2 separate regions of the Homo sapiens genome follow, and region 1 is linked to region 2. Evidence: fine-mapped expression QTL. A gene starts in region 2. The other region holds a variant in brackets. All regions are shown on one strand. Distances are from middle to middle.

The links. PIP is the estimated chance that this variant, and not a neighbour inherited with it, causes the effect.
Region 1: its variant is fine-mapped to the expression of SET in whole blood (TOPMed, PIP above 0.99).

The regions. Positions count from the first base shown.
Region 1 is chr9:128,717,842-128,729,684 of GRCh38, reverse strand. PKN3 (protein kinase N3) reads right to left here. Exons shown (of 22, transcript NM_013355.5): 17 at 11,298-11,360; 18 at 11,060-11,136; 19 at 9,857-9,999; 20 at 9,668-9,775; 21 at 9,402-9,482; 22 at 8,769-9,291. The coding sequence ends at 9,079. It overlaps ZDHHC12 (zDHHC palmitoyltransferase 12), which reads left to right and starts at 5,558. Exons shown (of 5, transcript NM_032799.5): 1 at 5,558-5,691; 2 at 7,111-7,247; 3 at 7,599-7,676; 4 at 7,868-8,034; 5 at 8,183-8,812. The coding sequence starts at 5,592. The coding sequence ends at 8,504. It overlaps ZDHHC12-DT (ZDHHC12 divergent transcript), which reads right to left and starts at 5,223. Exons shown (of 2, transcript NR_046240.1): 1 at 5,050-5,223. RefSeq lists enhancers at 1-117, 118-949 and a silencer at 5,190-5,669. The variant G/C (reference allele first, on the strand shown) is at 5,639.
Region 2 is chr9:128,684,424-128,692,477 of GRCh38, reverse strand. SET (SET nuclear proto-oncogene) reads right to left here and starts at 3,256. Exons shown (of 8, transcript NM_003011.4): 1 at 2,823-3,256; 2 at 1,251-1,308; 3 at 478-620. The coding sequence starts at 2,895. It also overlaps a transcript of DYNC2I2 not described here. RefSeq lists silencers at 2,387-2,506, 2,887-3,796 and enhancers at 4,083-4,959, 6,310-6,409, 6,450-6,539, 7,745-7,834.

The DNA.
Region 1 (11,843 bases), 35 kb before region 2:
TGTGGTAGGGAGGGGTGCGTTTGGTGGGTTAAAGGGCTGCAGGCTGGGGACAGGTGGCAGGGGACTGAGCTGGAGTACCTGTTTCCTATGTGTTCTCTTCACATCCCTGTGCCCACTGAGGACACAGCTGGCAACCAGACCAACAGGGTGCCTGCCTAAGATGGCTCAGCCTGATGGGGGAGACAGATGGCAAATAGAAGATTACAACTCTGTGCCACCATCAGGGAGAAGGCAGCGGAGGAGGTGCCTCCTGCCAGTGGATGGGAGTGGGCAGGCGGATCAGGGAAGCTTGGAGTCCGCTGGGCCACAGTGCTTTGGGGAGAGGGGGAGGAGCCAGCACGATGTCCCCATGTGTCTGGGAGGCTTCTTACAAGAGGACAGAGTGGAGCCAAACCCAGGGAAAAGAAGGAGGTTGCCCAGGCCTGGCCCGAGGGGCTGAGGAAAAGTGCATCCTCAGCAGAGGGTCCCGCCAGGGTGGACAGAGAAGCAGCCCCATGTGGCCCTGGCAGCGTGAGGAACAAGGGTAGAGTGGGAGGGGACCAGGAAGTCGCTGGTGCCAAATTGTGAGGTGCCCAGACTCTAGCATGGCCCAGGGCCGTCCTGGCTGACACCTGTGGTCCCCGCACGTCTATCAACAGTGCCTTGTCATCCTTAAGAGCTGCCTGGTTGGAATAAGAAATGATATGGTGGGCTGGGTGCGGTGGCTCACGCCTGTAATCCCAGCACTTTGGGAGGCCGAGGTGGATCACGAGGTCAGGCGATCAAGACCATCCTGGCTAACATGGTGAAACCCCGTCTCTACTAAAAGATACAAAAAAATTAGCTGCGCTAGGCGGCCGGCACCGGTAGTCCTAGCTACTTGAGAGGCTGAGACAGGAGAATGGTGTGAACCCAGGAGGCAGAGCTTGCAGTGAGCACAGATGGTGCCACTGCACTCCAGCCTGGGTGACAGAGCGAGACTCCGTCTCAAAAAACAAAAAAGAAATGATACGGTCACACCCTTTATAGGCCACCGTGAGTGTGTGGATTTTACCCTTTATGTGAGGTTTTAAGCCTGGGCATCAGGACCCAATTAAGCATTTCTGGAAGCTGAGCACTGACTCCTCCCACAGCCTCTGTGAAGCCGAGGTCCCCTCTTCTCCACCCCCTGCAGGGCCTGGACCTGGCCTCTCTCTCCCCTGGCTGACAGCCCCCTGCCACTGGCCACCCACAGGACCTGGGCAGGAAGGGCATCAAGTGGTTTGCCTCAGAACCCTGGTGGGTCGTCTGTGCCTCGGAGGGAATGAGGGCAGTGCCTGCCAGCAGCAGCCAACACTGCTGAACCTTATTCTGTGTCCCAGGCCCCGGGCTAAGTGCTTCATGTACCTTCCGCTTCCTCAGAACCCTGGCAATAATCCATTTCACAGACAAGGACACTGAGGCTCAGAGAGGTGAAGTGACTTTACTTTTTATTTTTTTCAGACAAGGTCTCACTGTTGCCCAGGCTGAGTGCAATGGCACGATCACAGCTCATTGCAGCTTCGACCTCCTGGGCTCAAGCAATCCTTGCACCTCAGCCTCCCAAGTAGCTGGGACAACAAACGTGCACCTCCATGCACATCTAATTTTTGTTTTTTTGTAGAAATGGGGTCTCACTGTGTTGCCCAGGTTGGTCTCAAATTCCTGGGCTCAAGCAATCCTCCCACTCCAGCCACCCACAGTGTTGAGATTACAGGCATATGCCACCATACCTGGCCTGACATGACTTATTACCTCAAGGTTGCCACAGTAAAGGAGGGAAAACAAGATCCTCAGATGTGCCAGGTGCTCCTCCTCTAGCTCGCTGGCCTGATACTTGCCATTTCCTGTGTCAGGAACACTCTAGTTCCTGCTCATCCCATCACAGCACCTACTTATCTCATGGGGCTGAAATTGCCTTGTCTCGTCTCCCCCACTGGACTGTGAGCAACAAGCCACATCAAGGCTCTGCTGTAGCCCAGCACAAAACCTGGCACATGGAGGGCTCTCCTTTTAAAAACCTGTGGCCAGGCTGGGTACAGTGGCTCAGCCTGTAATCTCAGGACTTTGGGAGGCCAGGGTGGGCGGATCCCTTGAGGTCAGGAGTTTGAGACCATCCTGGCCAAAATGGTGAAACCCCGTCTCTACTAAAAATACAAAAATTAGCTGGGTGTGGTGGTGCACACCTGTAATCCCAGCTACTCGGGAGGCTGCGGCAGGAGAATCACTTGAACCCAGGAGGCAGAGGTCACAGTGAGCTGAGATCGTGCTATTGCAGTCCAGCCCAGGCAACAGAGCAAGACTCCATTGCAAAAACAAACGAACAAAAACAAAAACCTAGGTGACGGGATGAGCTGTGCAGCAAACCACAGTGGCACATGTTTACCTATGTAACAAACCTGCACATCCTACACATGTACCCCTGAACTTAAAATAAAAGTTGGAGAGAAAAAAAAAAAGAAACTAATTTTGCCGCTCAGCACCTTCAAACATGACCTACCTCTCCAAAATAGACTGATGTCTAAACCATAAAGCCATTTTACTGAGTCTCCCTAAGAAATGTGACCTCTGGCCGGGCACAGTGGTTCACACTTGTAATCCCAGCACTTTGGGAGGCCGAGGCAGGCGGATCACAAGGTAAGGAGTTCAAGGCCACCCTGGCCAACATGGTGAAATCCTGTGTCTACTAAGAATTTTTAAAAAATTAGCCAGGCGTGGTGGCACGTGCCTGTAATCCCAGCTACTTTGGAAGCTAAGGCAGGAGAATTGCTTGAACCCAGGAGGCGGAGGTTGCAGTGAGCCTCAGATCACACCAGGGAAACAGTACGAAACTCCCTCTCAAAAAAAAAAAAAAGTGCTGGGCACAGTGGCTCACGCCTGTAATCCCAGCACTCTGGGAGGCCAAGGCGGGCGGGTCATCTGAGGTCGGGAGTTTGAGCCCAGCCTGACCAACATGGAGAATCCCCATCTCTACTAAAAATACAAAATTCGCTGGGCATGGTGGCGGGTGCCTGTAATCCCAGCTACTTGGGAGGCTGAGGCAGGAGAATCGCTTGAACCTGGGAGGCAGAGGTTGCAGTGAGCCGAGAGCCCGCCATTGCATTCCAGCCTGGGCAACAAGAGCGAAACTCCGTCTCAAAAAAAAAAAAAAAAGTGTGGTGGGATGGGAACTTACAATTGTGATCCTTCCTCTGTCCATTTGAGATGAGTGTGTATCTCCTACAACTCAGAAGTGTCTTTTTCAAGGACCTGAAGGCCATTCTATTGAAATGTAATATCAGGAAGGACAGAGCCTCTGTCTCCCAGTCTCTGCAGGAGAACAGAGTCCTAACTTTCACCATTGCCAGCGAGCACGCGGAGCTGCCTAATCACATTTACCATGACCAACCCTTTGGAATTTTTCATTTCCCTTATTCTGCTGAAGCCCTCACCGTTTCCCTCCACTCCCTCATTCTCCCTTTAAGCCAGACATGGTGGAGCACGCCTGCAGTCCCAGCTACTCTGGAGGCTGAGGGGGAAGATTGCCTCAGGTCAGGAGTTTGAGGCCATAGCGAGACCCCATCTCAAGAAAGCAGAAAACCAAAACCACAAAAAACATCAGTCACCTCTGCACAAACAGAAGTTTCAGTTGGTTCACACTGGGCTCTCCGCCCTATCAGTAGTATATTGTTAATTAAAATCTGGCCTTACTATTTGAACTAGTGTTGGGATGTTTGATACTAGCACAGTGCCTAACCCACGGAAGCTTCAGAATTATGTGCTGAGTGGATAATGTGCTGGATGTCCCCACTGAGCACATCAGATCCTGCACCCAGTGCAGTAGTCAAGACTTAGCTGCAAATGACAGACACCCAACTCAAACATCTACTCAGGCTAGTCAAAGGTGGGAATTGGGGCCAGGCATGGTGGCTCACACCTGTAATCCCAGCACTTTGAGAGGCTGAGTTAGGCAGATCACTTGAAGTCAGGAATTCGAGACCAGCCTGGACAACATAGTGAAACCCTGTCTCTACTAAAAATACAAAAATTAGCTGGGCGTGGTGGCATGTGCCTGTAACCCCAGCTACTTGGGAGGCTGAGGCAGGAGAATCACTTGAACTTGGGAGGTGGAGGTTGCAGTGAGCCCAGATCGCGCCACTGCACTCCAGCCTAGGCAACAGAGTGAGGCTCTGTCTCAAAAAAAAAAAAAAAAAAAAGGTGGGCATTCATTGACTCTTGCAACCAGGGGATGCAGAGTCAGTATCAGCTTCAGGGACAGCCGGATCTAGAGGGCTCAGACAATGTTGTTCAGACCATCTCTTGCTCCCTCCTTTAGTGCTGCTTATCCATCTCTATGTGTCTTTATAAGTTGGTCTCATTTTCTCCAGCCACAGACAGGGTAAGCCCTCTCCGCCCAGCGTAAAGACGGCTCCCAGTTGCCTTATATCCCATTCCTTAGGCTTGAGATCCAAAAGAATGCTCCTTCCTCTCAGCATCTAGACAGTAATCTCATGGAAGGCCTGTGATTGGTTCTGCAGAGTCGAAAGCCCACAGCCTGCCGCTCGCCATCCTATGGGGTGAGGGGCAGTCCCTCCAATCACATGGGATGGGAAGTCGATTCCCCAACCAAAAAAAGGATGTTGAGCTGAGAAAAACAACAGATGTCAGAGGAGTATCCTGGAGGAGCTGGGATGGGGCCAATCAGAGGGAGGCGGAGGAGGATGCTGGTATCAGTGGGAGGTGCTGTGGAAAGGCGGGGCTGAGTGGAGAAGGCCCTGGGGACACAGGGAAGGAGGACAGCCTGCAGCCTCCGGTGAGGAAAGTCCGCCTGTAGGTGGTGGCTCACAGCAGGAGAGGCAAGACAGTCCCGTGCTAGACAAGGCGCTTCCATTATTTAATCCTCCCAAACACCTTAGGAGGAAGACACTATTGTAATCCCCCTTATAGAGACAGAAAACAGCTCAGAGGGGCTCAGTAACTCGCCCAGGGTCACACAGGTAGGAAGGGGCAGTGCTGGGATTTCTGACTCCCGCCTAAGTTGGATCACCCATAGTCAGAATGTGCACCACGTACCTCCACTTTTCTCTCGTCCGTTTGCAATATCTGAGAATACATAGCAAGGAGGTAAAGCTGTCACCACAGAGCAACCTTGGGCGAGCCTTGGCCCTCTCGAGACTTTAGTCATCACATCTTTGAAATGGGTACAATTTTGCCTCCCGGACTCACAGCAAGCCGCTGGATCTTCGAAGCGCCCAGGGAGCTACGCGCATGCGCGAGGCTGCGAGGGCGGGCACAGGGGAACGCGGGGGAGGGCACAGCGGAGCGCGGGGGAGGTGCGCGCGCGCTCCGGCGCTTTCAAAAGTTACCTGGCGGGTGGGGCTGGAGTTGAGGGAGTTACCAGCTGCGCGCGCGCCGGCCCCACCCTCAGCCTCTTCAGGCACCTGTTGGCTTGAGGGTCCATTCGGCCGCAGATGCCATCCAATAGGCAGCCTCCCTGACCCAGTCCGGCCCCGCCCAACGCCTAGATCCACCAGTCCCCGGGCGGCGGCGTTCCCCTCCCTCGGAGGGCCCGCCCCTCTGGGCGCTTCTTCCGGGTGGGGCCCCGGGCCGAGGCGATGGCGCCCTGGGCGCTCCTCAGCCCTGGGGTCCTGGTGCGGACCGG[G/C]CACACCGTGCTGACCTGGGGAATCACGCTGGTGCTCTTCCTGCACGATACCGGTGAGCCGGACCCCGAGCGACCCCGGACCCACCCGATCCCGCGTACTTCCCCAGACGTTCTGGTCACACTGGGTCTCCCGCCTAATCCCTGGAGATCCTGGGATTGGCCCGATCTCCACCAGCTCCTGAAGCCCTCTCCCCATCTATCATTCCAAGAGCCACCTGCTCTCTGTCTGATACCCCGTTGATCCCTAATTAATCCCAGCATCTTCCTGATCATTGCCAAATGCCCTGTCCATCCCAGGACCCAGCCGGTGCCCACCAGATCCAAGGACCGACTTGAGCCCCATGTCCCCTGATCCTGGGACCCACATGATCCTTCCCAGGAACTGACCCCAAATCTTCCTATCCATACGATTAGGAGGCTCAACTAGATGCAAAGATTGGCATTCTGCCCACACCCACACCCCCCACACCCCCATGGCCACTAGCTGCCCAAGTCCAGGCAAACCCTCAGGCCAGAGAACACTCCATGGGGTGCGGCCTGTCTCCCATCTTCCCACAGATTCACCCACCCACCCACCTCCATTTCCCTCATTCCTCTTAGTAGCCCCCTACCCAGCGCCTCACCTGCCACAGGCAGCCTCCCCCACTGTCCCCCACAGCAGACCCCAGCCCTCCTTCCATGGCGGTCCAGCCTCAGTTTCTGGACTGGGGCCCCTTCTGGCTTTCCTCCCAAGACAGACCTCCTCCACCACCTTCACCCTTTAGCCTAAAAACTTGCTCAGGTCTCCGTATCAGAAAACCCCCCTCAAAACCCACCCTTTCTTCTCTGCTCCCCCTTACAACCAAGGGACACAGGATTTGTCTACACTCTGCTGTCTGGTGGTCTCATGCCCCCTCACTCCTTGCCCTGCACCCTACCTCCCCAAAATCCTGTCACCTCCCTGGGCTGAAGCCTGCTGGACCCTTCCGTATGCCCCTCTGCAGCATCTGAGCCTGCCAGCTGCACCCTTCCCACTGTATCTCTCTCAGGCATTTCAGACCTAACCAGTCTCTCACCATTGCAGAGCCAGAGACGCTGGACCCCTCTTCCCTCTCTCCCACATCCAGTCAGGTCTGGCTCCCTTGACCCAGCAGCCCCCTGTCCATTCCTTCCTCCCTCACTTCCTGCCAGGCCTTTGTAGCGACTCTCTTCTTCCTCCTGGCCAGATTCTCTGCCCCCAGGCTTCCCCTGATCCATTTCTTTAGCAATGAGGTTTTCCAAAACAGATCTGGCTCTATAACCTTCCATGGTTCCCTCTGACCCTCCAGATAAAAGTGCAGATGAACTGCTGGCCACACACAGCCACTCATGGAACCAACATCTCCAGGCCTTTGCTCAGCCAGGAACACACTTCCCCACCTCCAACTGCACCCCAACCCCACCCACTCCTGTTCTACCCGGCCCAGCCTCACTGTGCTCTCCGGCCTCTCCAGAGCTGCGGCAATGGGAGGAGCAGGGGGAGCTGCTCCTGCCCCTCACCTTCCTGCTCCTGGTGCTGGGCTCCCTGCTGCTCTACCTCGCTGTGTCACTCATGGACCCTGGCTACGTGAATGTGCAGCCCCAGCCTCAGGTAACCAGGGGCCCCTACTCTCACCAACAGGGACCTAACAACCAGCACCAGTCTCCATGCCAGGCTCTGTGCTGCAGGCTCTTGTGGGAGCAGTTCAGTGACTCCTCTTGCCACCCCTAGAGCCCCATCTACAGTAGTGAGGAAACTGCTGGGCCCCAGAGAAGGAAGAGACTTGCAAACATACACAGCCGCCCTCAGTCCAGGGTGCTCCGCCATACCCCACACCTCCATTCTGCATGGGATGGGTCCCAAACTCCATACCCAGAGCTAAGCCGGCCCCTAGGGGAGCTGCCCGCCAATGCCATCTGTCTCCCAAGGGGACCCTGTCTTACACCCCACCCCTCATTCCAGGAGGAGCTCAAAGAGGAGCAGACAGCCATGGTTCCTCCAGCCATCCCTCTTCGGCGCTGCAGATACTGCCTGGTGCTGGTGAGTGATGCACGGACACCCGTGGGAGAGGTTGGGCCAAAGCTGAGACTCCTCGACCTCCTCCTGCCCCACTGCCTGGGCCTCGCCCCTCCTCCAAGAAGGCCTTCCAGAATCAGGCCCTGATTCCTTCCCTCAGTGGTGGGCCCACAGCAGGGCTGGCACTGAGCCTCCACTCTCCTCCATGCCCACAGCAGCCCCTGAGGGCTCGGCACTGCCGTGAGTGCCGCCGTTGCGTCCGCCGCTACGACCACCACTGCCCCTGGATGGAGAACTGTGTGGGAGAGCGCAACCACCCACTCTTTGTGGTCTACCTGGCGCTGCAGCTGGTGGTGCTTCTGTGGGGCCTGTACCTGGCATGGTGGGTGCTGCTGCCCGGGTGTAGAGGGAGGGTGGGATGAATGCTCCCACAGGGGTGGACAGAGCCAGGACTCCCAGGGACCCGGCATGGGGAGGGAAGGGCTCCCCTGCCCTCCCCCAGCACCAGGCCCCTGTCCCCTGCACCGCAGGTCAGGCCTCCGGTTCTTCCAGCCCTGGGGTCAGTGGTTGCGGTCCAGCGGGCTCCTGTTCGCCACCTTCCTGCTGCTGTCCCTCTTCTCGTTGGTGGCCAGCCTGCTCCTCGTCTCGCACCTCTACCTGGTGGCCAGCAACACCACCACCTGGGAATTCATCTCCTCACACCGCATCGCCTATCTCCGCCAGCGCCCCAGCAACCCCTTCGACCGAGGCCTGACCCGCAACCTGGCCCACTTCTTCTGTGGATGGCCCTCAGGGTCCTGGGAGACCCTCTGGGCTGAGGAGGAGGAAGAGGGCAGCAGCCCAGCTGTTTAGGGTTGCTGGAGGCCGGGCTACCGTCTTGTGCCTGAAAACCACGGGGCCTGTCCCCAGCTGGGGTGAGCGCTCAGAGGGCCTGGGGCCCTCACTCCTGCCCACGCCTCCCAGACCCCAGAACGGAGCTTCAAGTCAGACAGATCCCTGCCTTGGTGGGCAGTTCTGCCTTCCAAGGAAGAAGGGGAAGAAAAGGACCTGTGGGTGGCTCAGGCCCAAGCAGACCCCGGGCTCCACCCCAGCCCCGCCCAGGCTGCTGCCAGTGCACACTTTTACAAATTTAATATAAAGCAAGTCCAGTCTTAAAAAGACAAACCATATCACTCCTTGCTGCGGCACCCTTTCTGGGCCAGGTCTCGCTGGGAGGTAGAAGAGGGCGAGCTGGAGGGGGAAGGGACACACTTTGCCCAGTGACACTGAGCAAAGCCCACAACAGTGGCCCCATGGCTGCCACTTTGAATCCCAAGGGCTCAGAAGTACCCAGCAAGGCCTGGACCTCCAGGCAGGGCGCACGGGTGAACGAGCAGAGGCTCTAACAGTCTGTGGGGGAAGGGGACAGAGGTGCCAGGAGATGCCCTCAGGGTTCCAGGAATCGCTCTGACACAAAGTCGAAGTCCCGGAAGGCGGCCTGTTGGCGGGCAGTGAGGAGGCTGTGGGGTGCAGGTGGGGTCAGGGCAGGCGGCAGCCCTGTGAACTCGCCCTCAAAGTAGCGCAGGTCCGCAGGGCCACACAGGGTAGGCACGAAGGGGGGCTGGATGGTGCGGGCGAGCAGGGCTTGCCAGTTGGTGGTCTGAGGGCAAAGGAGAGGCGCCTGAGACGGCAGGAACAGCAGCTCCAGGAGTCACTCCATGCCACCTACCCTGCCAGGCACAGGGGACCACCGCCACCCCAGCCGCTCACCCTGAAGAATGGCTGGACCTTGATCTCCTCGGCATCCTGCTCACCTGCCCCGAGGCGCTTCTCCGGGCACTTCTGGAGGAGCTGGGCAATAGGACAGGCGCTCACTTAGGGCATTCAGCCCCAGGCACTGCCATCATCCACAGGCCCCAAGCACGCTGGCCCAGAGCGCTCTAAGGATGGGTGGCAGGGGGTCTGCTGTCCCACGGCAGAGGGCACATGGGCCTTGAGCGGCCATCCAGCCCAGCCCCAGACCCCGCAGTGCTTACCTTCTGAATGAACTCAAGCCCTTGCACCGACAGAAAGCCGGGGTAGGGGGCGTCCATGTTGACGATGCAGTCAAACACCTCTTCCTCTGTGTCCCCTGGGAACGGGCACTGTGGAGATGGGGGCTCAGCAGGATGCACGGGCCACCCCACCCCCACCCAGAGGCCCAGGAAACAGGCTCCAGCACTCACCTCACCCACCAGCATCTCGTAGAGCAGCACACCCAGCCCCCACCAGTCCACAGCCCGTGTGTATGCCTCCTGGGTCAGCACCTCGGGAGCCAGGAACTCCGGGGTGCCACAGAAGGTGCTAGTCCGGTCCCCGAAGCCGATCCCTGCAAACCAACAGGCACACCAATAGCTGCTTGGTGTGGCCTATTCACAATAACTTCAATAGCCAAGCCTTATGATGCCAGGGAGCTGAGCCTGTGCCAAGCCCTGCCCTGTACCCAAGGAAGTGGGAATGGTTATGACGCCATTTGACTGCATGCAGAGCCAAGCTCACAGGCTAAGGTCACAGAAGGCAGAACTCGGCTGGGTGCGGTGGCTCACACCTGTAATCCCAGCACTTTGGGAGGCCGAGGTGGGCAGATCATGAGGTCAGGAGTTCGAGACCAGCCTGGCCAACATGGTGAAACCCCGTCTCTACTAAAAATACAAAAAATAAGCTGGGTGTGGTGGCATGTGCCTGTAATCGCAGGTACTCGGGAGGCTGAGGCAGGAGAATCTCTTGAACCTTGGAGGCAGAGGTTGCAGTGAGCCGAGATTGCGCCATTGCACTCCAGCCTGGGCAACAGGGCAAGACTCCATCTCAAAAAAAAAAGAAGCCGGGCGCAGTGGCTCACGCCTGTAATCCCAGCACTTTGGGCGGCCAAGGTGGGTGGATCATGAGGTCAGGAGATCGAGACCATCCTCGCTAACACAGTGAAACCCCGTCTCTACTAAAAAAATACAAAAATTAGCCAGGTGTGGTGGTGCTCGCTTGTAGTCCCAGCTACTTGGGCTGCTGAGGCAAGAGAATCGCTTGAACCCAGTAGGTGGAGGCTGCAGTGAGCCGAGACTGCACCACTGCATTGCATCCTGGGCGGCACAGCAAGACTCCGTCTCAAAAAAAAAAACAAACCAAAAAAAAAACAGAAGGCAGAACTCAGTCTCCTCTCCCATCCCTGACCACAGGCTCTCCCTTGGGCCAGGTGCAGGCTGGGGCTACGAGCCTCTAGGACTAGGAAGAAAGGGCCAGTGTGCCCAGCTGTCCCCTGGAATGAGGTCTGGGGTGGTGGAACCAGGGCATCCGCAGGTGAGGAGATTTCCTGGGACATGCCATGTGCCCATCATCCTATTGGCCAGGGTGGGTAAACAAGGCTGGAGATATGGATCCCAATGGGCGGCCCCCACCTTCCTTGCAGAGTCCAAAGTCTGCGATCTTCAGGAATCCCTGGGCATCCAGCAGAAGGTTATCCAACTTCAGGTCCCTGAGGGCAAGGGTGCAGATCAAAGGGACTGAGTGGGGCTTAGACCCAGGGAACAGTAACGGCCCCTGGAGCAGCCCAGGCAGGCGGAGGCAGCATCTGTCCTTACCCACTCCACCCCCACCCCCACCCCTACCCCCGTGCATCCCTGGGACAAAAGTCACCTGTAAATGATCTTCTTCTCGTGTAAGAACTGCAGCCCCAGGACAACACAAGCCACGTAGAAGCTGCAGGGGTGGTTATGGGAGAACTCAGGCCCAAGACACACACCAGGGAGGCAGGGCAGGGAGGCACCAGGATGGCCATAGCGGGGGGATCCCGGATGTCCCGGCCAGAGTCAGAGATGAGTGAGACTGGGACAAGCATCATGCTGAGGGTGGGGGTGCTCCAATAGTCCCAAGGTCGCCCCAAGGTTGCGTGCATTTCCAGCTCACCCTTCATGGGCCCTTAAATGGTGCCAGGGACCAAGTGTTGGTCCCTGCAGTGGATATTCATCATGCCTATTTTTTTTTTTTTTGAGACGGAGTCTCACTCTGTCACCCAGGCTGCAGTGCAGCGGTGCGATCTCGGCTCACTGCAACCTCCACCTCCTGGGTTCAAGCAATTCTCCTGCCTCAGCCTCCCAAGTAGCTGAGACTACAGGCACGCGCCACCACGCCCAGCTAATTTTTTTTTTTTTTTTTTTTTTTTAGTTTTTATAGAGATAGGGT
Region 2 (8,054 bases):
CTTCTCCTAAACAGAATAGAAAGCAGTAGCTGTATATCTTTTCCCGTCTTTGAGGTTTTTTTTTTTTTTTTTTTTTTTTTGAAACAGTCTCACTCTTGTCGCCCAGGCTGGAATGCAAAAGCGCACAATCTCGGCTCACTGCAACCTCCCCCTCCTGGGTTCAAGCGATTCTCCTGCCTCAGCCTCCCAAGTAGCGAGTAGCTGGGATTACAAGCGCGCGCCACCACGCCCAGCTAATTTTTTTTGTATTTTTAGTAGAGACGGGGTTTCAACCTGTTGGCCAAGCTGGTTTCGAACCCCTGACCTCAAGTGATCCACCCACCTCGGCCTCCCAAAGTGCTGGGATTACAGGTGCGCCACCGCACCCAGCCTGTCTTTGTTGCACGCAACCCAGCATGCTGGACTAAGTCTTCACCAAGCTTCCTCCATTCTAACAAACACTGTTTATCCTTTAACAATGCCCTGTCCAAAACATACCTTGTGGATGGTTGACAAATGTTGTTACCCAAAAATTTGGGATTTTGGCGATCAATTCTGACCTCTTCTGAAAAAATGGTTGGCGGAGTTTGTTATATTTCTGTTCTACTTTCAAAATCTCCTCACTGGCTTGTTCATTAAGTCTGAAGCAAATGAAAAGAGATGTTGACAATGATAGTATTTAACAAATTAAAAAATTGGTTGAGATTACAGAGTGTATTTACTTACTAGCTTGAGTCATGCAAAATAACCAAATTATAATAACCATTATCACCTAATTTAGACACTCAAAACTAAGATGGCAATTTTGTCTGATTTATCAATAAACACTGAGTAATAATGACTGTTAAGAGTGCCCAAACTCAACACTCTGGTAACGTGTGTATTTACTTCGCCCACTCCATTTCCAGTCCAATTTCAATTGTTTCCCTCAAGCGCGATTTCTAAATAAAGTGGCTAATCCATAACAAAGTTGTAAGGCAAGTTAGAGCAACCACTGATGCCACACTGCTAAACCATCAGAAGACCTACACTGCAATTCAGACAATTTTCAGTCTTTGAAAGCAAACCCAAACCTTGTAAGGTCAATGCACTTTCAAAAACTTCTGTACAATCACTTCACCAAAAAACACTGAATCTACATAAGTATTTCCAACCAAGTTAGAATCATTTCCCCTTTGACAGTGGATAGATTTGACCATAGCTTCGATAATTACCGGGCTATTAGACACATCTCAGAAAATTTCTCCGAAGTATATTAAGAAAAATGTTACCTGTCTATTTCATTTTGTACTTCATCAATGTGTTCAATCGCTTCTTGCTGTTCTTTTTCTGCAAAAAAGGAGCAAAAAACTTAATTCTAAGATAAATTTACCTAGTTTTCCAGATGTTAATACTATAATATTCCAAAAGCCATTAAAACAAAAACAAAAACGCCTAGTACAAAGGCAAGCGTTCCACATGTTCATGCTTGTAGCTGACTAATTTCTTTTTAATTAATTAAAAGACCATTTACAAGTCATGCTGTCTGCTGGTTTACTCAGAAATTGGTTTTCTATAGCGCCTTTTTAAAGAGTTTCACTACAACAGACCGATCATTAAGGTTTCTACTATGAAAGACACAGAATAACCTTATTCAGAAGTCTTCACGTTTATTATTTCACATTATACACTTGCAAGAGAACAGTAGCAGCTGCTAACTAGAATATGGAAACTAAACCCATGACAATGATACAAATTAGGCCACCACTACCACCTATCAAGGTAAAACCACCTTTCATAGAAAGTTGACGACTCTGCTATTACGATGAAGATACCAGGCACGCCTACAAAGACTGGAAAGTCACGGGGCACCATCCTACACCCTGGCCTTCGCCTTCTCAGAACATGAACCCCTCCAACCCAATTCAGGCGGGCAGACCTCAGATGCGGCCCCACACGACTTTGGAGCACTTACTGGGAGCAACTATGAGATCGGAAAGCAGTGAGGCACAGAAGGGAGAGGAAGAAAAGGGGGTGTGCTCTGGAATAGGTGCCCTTTTGTCCTGTAAAGACTACAAACCCCCTACAAAGCTAAGTGGGTGTGAAAGGGCCAGATCGCGCGGTTCATTTCCGGTAACCATCCCGGATTGGCAGCCCCCCTGCCGAGAGCCTCCTAGGCAGAGGCCAGCTTTCTTAGCCATTTCCAAGACCCCCGATACACTGGTCGCGGCGCCAGGTTTCTCCGCACGCTGGCGCGACGGGGCGGCCGCCCCACGTGGGGAGTGCGCCCGGGCTGGCCAGAGCATCCTCCCGGCCGGCCAAGGCCCAGCGCGCGGCCGCCCGCGTGTTCCCCGCGCCCCCACCCCACCCGAGCTCCAGGCAGAAGCCCCGCCGGGGCCAGCCTCTGGGCGGGGGTGCCGGGGGCGCCGCCGCGGGCCGGGCGCGAAGCGGAACCGCGCGGGAGGTCGGGCGCGGGGCCGCGTCCGGCCGCACCATGTGGCGGCGGCGGCGGCTGATGGGAGCGAGGCATCATGGCGGAGCACAATAAAGAGAGGCTTCTCGGGAGGGAGGGAGGGGGAGGAGAGCGAGGGAGGGGGGAGAGGAAGGGGGGGTCTCCTCCGCCCGCGCCGAGCAGGCCGCAGCGCCCCCGCCTCGCAGCGCGGCCGCCGCGGCGCGGGCCACCCAGGCCCCCAGCCCAGCCGCGCACAAAAAAGGGCGCCGAGTCCGCGGGCCCCCGCCCGGCCGCGCCGCGCCCCCCCGCCCGGCGCCCCCCGCGCGCGCCCCGGGCCCCGCCGGCGGCCTGCGGGCCGGGGCGGGCGGCGAAGATGGCGGCGCGGGCCGGCCCCCGGGCTCGCTGCTCTCACCTGAGGTCTCGTCGGCCCCGTCGTGGTTGGAGTTGAGCTCCTTTTTACTGACTTTGGCCGCCGGCGCCGACATGGTGCTGCTCCGCGGTCGGGGGGGGAGCGGGGAGGGGGAGAGAAGGGAAGGCGAAGGGGGCGGGCAAGCGGCTTCCCCTCACGCCACACGCGCGGGCGCCCGCTCGGTCCGGCCGCCTCCTCCCGGCGCTCGCTCGCTCTCCCTCCCCCTCGCTCGCTCGCGCGCGCTACCCTCGCGGCCTGACGCCGAGGGACGGGCTGGGGCGGCGTGCCGGGCCCCGGCCCGGGCTCCTGTTCGCGGAGGGGAGGCGGAGGCGGCGGCGGCGGGCGGCTCGGCTCCCTCACTCGCGCTCGGCGATCCAGCCAGCTCGCTGCTCGCTCTCCCGAGCCGCCTCCTCCTCCACCTCCTCCTACGGCGAGGGGCGGGCGCAGGGCGCAGGCGCGCCAGGCCCCGCGCGGATGCTCCGCCTCCGGCCGGGGAGGCTCGCGCCGCGGCGCCATTGGCCTGGGCGGCGGGATGAGGGGGCGGAGTCGCGGCGCGGAGACACAGGGCCCGGCGAGAGGTGGGAGGAAGGCGCGCGGCGACGCACGGCCGCCCCCCGCGCCGCGTCCCCTCCCCCGCTCTCCCCTCTCCGGCCCGACCCAGGACACTGGCGCGCGGCAGGCCGGTGGGCGGGGCGTCGCACGGAGGCGCGGGTGCCCCCGGCCGGCGCGTCACGTGGTGAGCGAGCGGCTTCCCTGCTCCGCGGGGCACCGGGAGCGGGGCGCCCACCACCCCGAAAGTGCAGGCCCGGCCTCGTATGGGGGCCCCGAATTCCGCCCGGCCTCTCGGCGCCTTCCACTTCGTGGAGAAAGCAGGGGGCACCCCATTCTGGATGCCAGATGGGGAACTGCCGATCGGACTCAAACTCGGGCTCGTGTGCGAAGCCCCAGGCTGTGTAATCCGCGCGCAGGGCCATTCCTGGGTTTTAGTCCAAGCCCTGCCCAGCAAGCTTGTACCCTTGAGCAAGTCACCCTTCCTCTCTGAACCCGTTTCTGTTATGAAATGATAAAGGTTACGACACTGAAGCCACATTAAACTCGAAGTCCTGTGAAGGCAGGGAGGTACCACATTAGTCCGCGGTGCCCAGCGCCCGCAAGAATCATACTGAGCGTTAAGTGCCAGTTTCAGCAGCGCATGGCACGGTTATCTCACCGAGGCCTCACAACAGCCCCAAGCGATAGGCGGTGTTCTGTTCATAGAGATGAAAGGGGCCAACAAGTTCTACTTGAGAGGCAAAGTTCTGAACCACTAAGGAGGGCCAAAGCATTTTGTTTAAATAATACTTTTCAAGTAATGCGGATGCCCCACATTCTGTCCCTCCAGCACCCCAAGACATGAACCATAAAAAGCCAGAAAAACCCTGATTAGTAGCATTTGTTTGTTTGTTTTGAGACGGGAGTCTTGCTCTGTCCCCCAGGCTGGAGTGCAGTGGCGCAATCTTGGCTCACTGCAAGCTCTGCCTCTCGGGTTCAAGCAATTCTCCTGCCTCGGCCTCCCGAGTAGCTGGGGCTACAGGCACGTGCCACCATGCCCGGCTAATTTTTGTATTTTTAGTAGAGATGGAGTTTCACCACCTTGGCCAGGCTGGTCTACTGACCTGGGGTGATCCACTCACCTCGTCCTCCCAAAGTGCTGGGATTACAGGCGGGAGCCACTGCGCCCGGCCAGTACCATTTGTTGATTTTAGTGATACGCTGGCCAATTTCAAATCCTGGCCATGCAATAGCTCACTCCTGTTATCCCAACACTTTGGGAGGCCAAGGCAGGAGGATCGCTTGGGCCCAGGAATTCCAGGCTTCAATGAGCCCCAATGCAGCCACTGCACTGAAGCCTGAGTGACAGAGCAAGACCCTATCTCTAAAACAAAAACAAAAAAATACCTGAAATCTCTCTTTGGACATTTTTAACCAGAACTTGGGGTTGGAATTCTGCCTTCCAGAACTCACACTTTACCATTGGCTCTTTTTTTTTTTTTTTTTTTTTGGTGGGGGAGGGGACCAAGTCTCATTCTGTCTTCCAGGCTGGAGTGCAGTGGTGCCATCTCAGCTCACTGCAACCTCCGCCTCCCGGGTTCAAGTGATTCTCCTGCCTCAGCATCCTGAGTTGCTAGGATTACAGATGTGAGTCACCACGCCCTGCTAATTTTTGTATTTTTTGGTAGAGACAGGTTTTCACCATGTTGGCCAGACTGGTCTCAAACTCCTGACCTCAGGTGATCCACCTGCCTCTGCCTCCCAAAGTGCTGAGATTACAGGCATGAGCCACTGAGCTCGGCCCACTATCAGCTCTTAAAGCTCAAGCAGCATCTTTCATGTTCAAGACAGTGCACGGTGAGTGTCTTAGCCTCCCGAGTATCTGGGATTACAGGCGCCCACTACCATGCCAAGCTAATTTTTGTATTTTTTAGTAGAGACGGGGTTTCACCATGTTGGCCAGGCTGGTCTCGAACTCCCGACCTCAGGTGATCTGCCCACCTCGGCCTCCCAAAGTGCTGGGACTACAGGCATGAGCCACCCACTGTGCCTAGCATAAACTAAACTTTGTTGCAAGTGACAGAACCAAGATTCTAAACCAAGTAGCAATTGACAAAGCCCTTACCTTAAAACAGTTTTTCTATTTTTATTGTTGTTATTATTATGAGACAGGGTCTCTCTCTGTCGCCCAGAACCATGGCTCACTGCAGCCTTGACCTCCTGGGCTCTGGGGATTCTTACACCTCAGCCTTCTGAGTAGCTGGGACCACAGGCAAGCACCACTGCCACCTTGCCTGGCTAATTTTGTTTTTATCTTTTGTAGAGAGGAGGTATCACCATGTTGCCCAGGCTGGTCTCAAACTCCTGAGCTCAAACCATCCTTCAGCCTCAGCCTTCCAGAGCTCTGGGATTACAAGAGTTAGCCATCGCACCCTGCCTCAGTTTTTTTAATGTGACCAACAGTCAGAAGTACTTTTGACATCATGACCTAGCACACACAAACCAAAACTTACCCTTACCAAGGGTGATGTGATTCTAATTTCCTATTTAAAATGCAGGTCACACCCCACCAAATTGATTTCACGACCCGCTCCTGGGCTGAGTCTGTCTGAGAACACTATGCCAAGGGCTGGCTGCTTCCATCCTCAAAGCCTGACCCATAGGGTCACTCCTGACCCACAATGTCTCCTAAGTGCCTTATCTGCCTGTTTCCCAAGCACCTGCAGGGGTCCCAGGGAACCCTGTAATGCCTTCTGATGGGGGAGTGGGCTTTCAGGTTCCCTTTCTGGCCTCCCAACCCTCCCTGCCACCTCCCTGCCCCTCTTTTCCTGCCCTTCCCCACACAGTGCTTCTCAAGATAAATATGAGCACACTAGGAAGTTGAAGAGAAAGAGAAAGCAAAAGGGCCAGGGGTGTGAGTAAACACAGGCGAGCCGGGGGCACACTGAGAGGTTATTCACCCACTCTTAGGACTCTGCTCTCTCCCCGTCTCCAACACCAGAAGCTCTGCATTCTCTCTTCTTGGCCTCTCCCCTCACTCAGAATTCCTCCCTTGCCTCTCTCCTCTCCTCCTGGCCCCTCTGGTTGTTTTTTTTTTTGTTGTTGTTGTTGTTGTTCTTGTCGCCCAGGCTGGAGTGCAATGGCACGAACTCGGCTCATTGCAACCTCCGCCTCCGGAGTTCAAGCAATTCTCCTGCCTTAGCCCCCCAAGTAGCTGGGATTACAGGCATGCATCGTCACGCCTGGCTAACTGTCTTTGGTAGAGATGGGGTTTAGCCATGTTGGCCAGGCTGGTCTTGAACTTCTGACCTCAGGTGATCTGCCCACCTCGGCCTCCCAAAGTGCTGGGATTACAGGCGTCAGCCACCGCGCCCGGCCCCCGGCTCCCTTTGAAGAGGACAGAACCCCACCGCCAGAAAGACTGGAACAGAGAGAGGCTGGCATTCCCCCACAGTGCTGCAGTGTCCCAAGCACAGACCAAAAAATCTCCAGAGCCTGGAACATCTCCCCCGCCACAGACACATACACATCTCTTTGAGCCTCCTGTTCTGATCTGTAAAATTGGGATGTCCACAGCATACGGCTGTGAGGATAGAGAAGTGCTTGGCACAGCTTCTGGCATGCCATCAGTGCCTACTAAGCAGCAGGAGCTGTTCTTTGGGTTTAGATGAACCCCCTCACACCTTTCCATCCCTTCCAGTCCTGTTAATGCTCCCAGGAAGCTCACTGGAAGGAAACTAGGAAGACTCACCCACATTTTGCTGCGCACAAATGCACTCTAGAGCACTGATGATGTGCTAGGCGCTGTCTAGTGCTCCCCTTAGATTTCAGACTCACAGCAAGCCTGGAGATCAGTACTGTGGATCCCATTTTATAGAAGAGAAAACAAGCACAAGTTGTTTTATGTGGCTCACCCAGCAAGGTAGGTTTCAAGCTGGGCAGGAGGTCTCTGCATCCCATGTGGAGGAAAAGGGACTGAGACCCAGTAAAAGTGCCAACAGGTCCACACTGAGCCCTGAGGTAGGACTCCTCCTCAGTGCTTCTTCCATAAGAGTTGCCTGCCCTCAGCCAATCAAAGCTTCCCGTTTCCTTGCAGGCCCTGGGCCTATCCACACCCAGCCCAGGAAGGCTCCACCACAACCCTCCCCTATGAGCCAGACCTAGTCACCAGAACAGTCAACTCTCTATCCAGCTCCAGCTACGTCTCCCAAAATGCAGCCCTCACCTCTAAGTTTAATGGGGGGAAGGGCAGGCATGAAACTGCTGGTTACAATGTAATGACAAGAGGGTGAGGCAGCATGACTCTGGGACTCCTAACTCCCAAGTGTTGGGGCTCACAGATTGCCCACAGGAAGTGACTTTCCAGCAGAGAGCTGGAGGTGGTGCACAGGTAAGGAGAGGAAAGGGCAAGTGGGTGTCTAGGCCCCGAGATCAGAGGGTAGAGTCCCAAGAGGTCAAGGTGAAGGGTACCACCTTGAGGGAGGCCTCCAGGTGGGGAGTCTCAGAAGTGTGAACCAGGAGAGGTCGGCGGGGACCGGGTTGGCGGGCCAGAGAAGTTTCTGAGCACCTGGAGGACGCGGGGAGGCAAGGGAGGGGTTTAAGCCGGGGAGTGGGCCACGTGATTGGCTATGCTCAGGCTGAAGGGGAGGAGGAGGAAGCTGGAAGCCAAGATGAGGAGGTGGCAGAGATTCAGGCCAGAGTTGT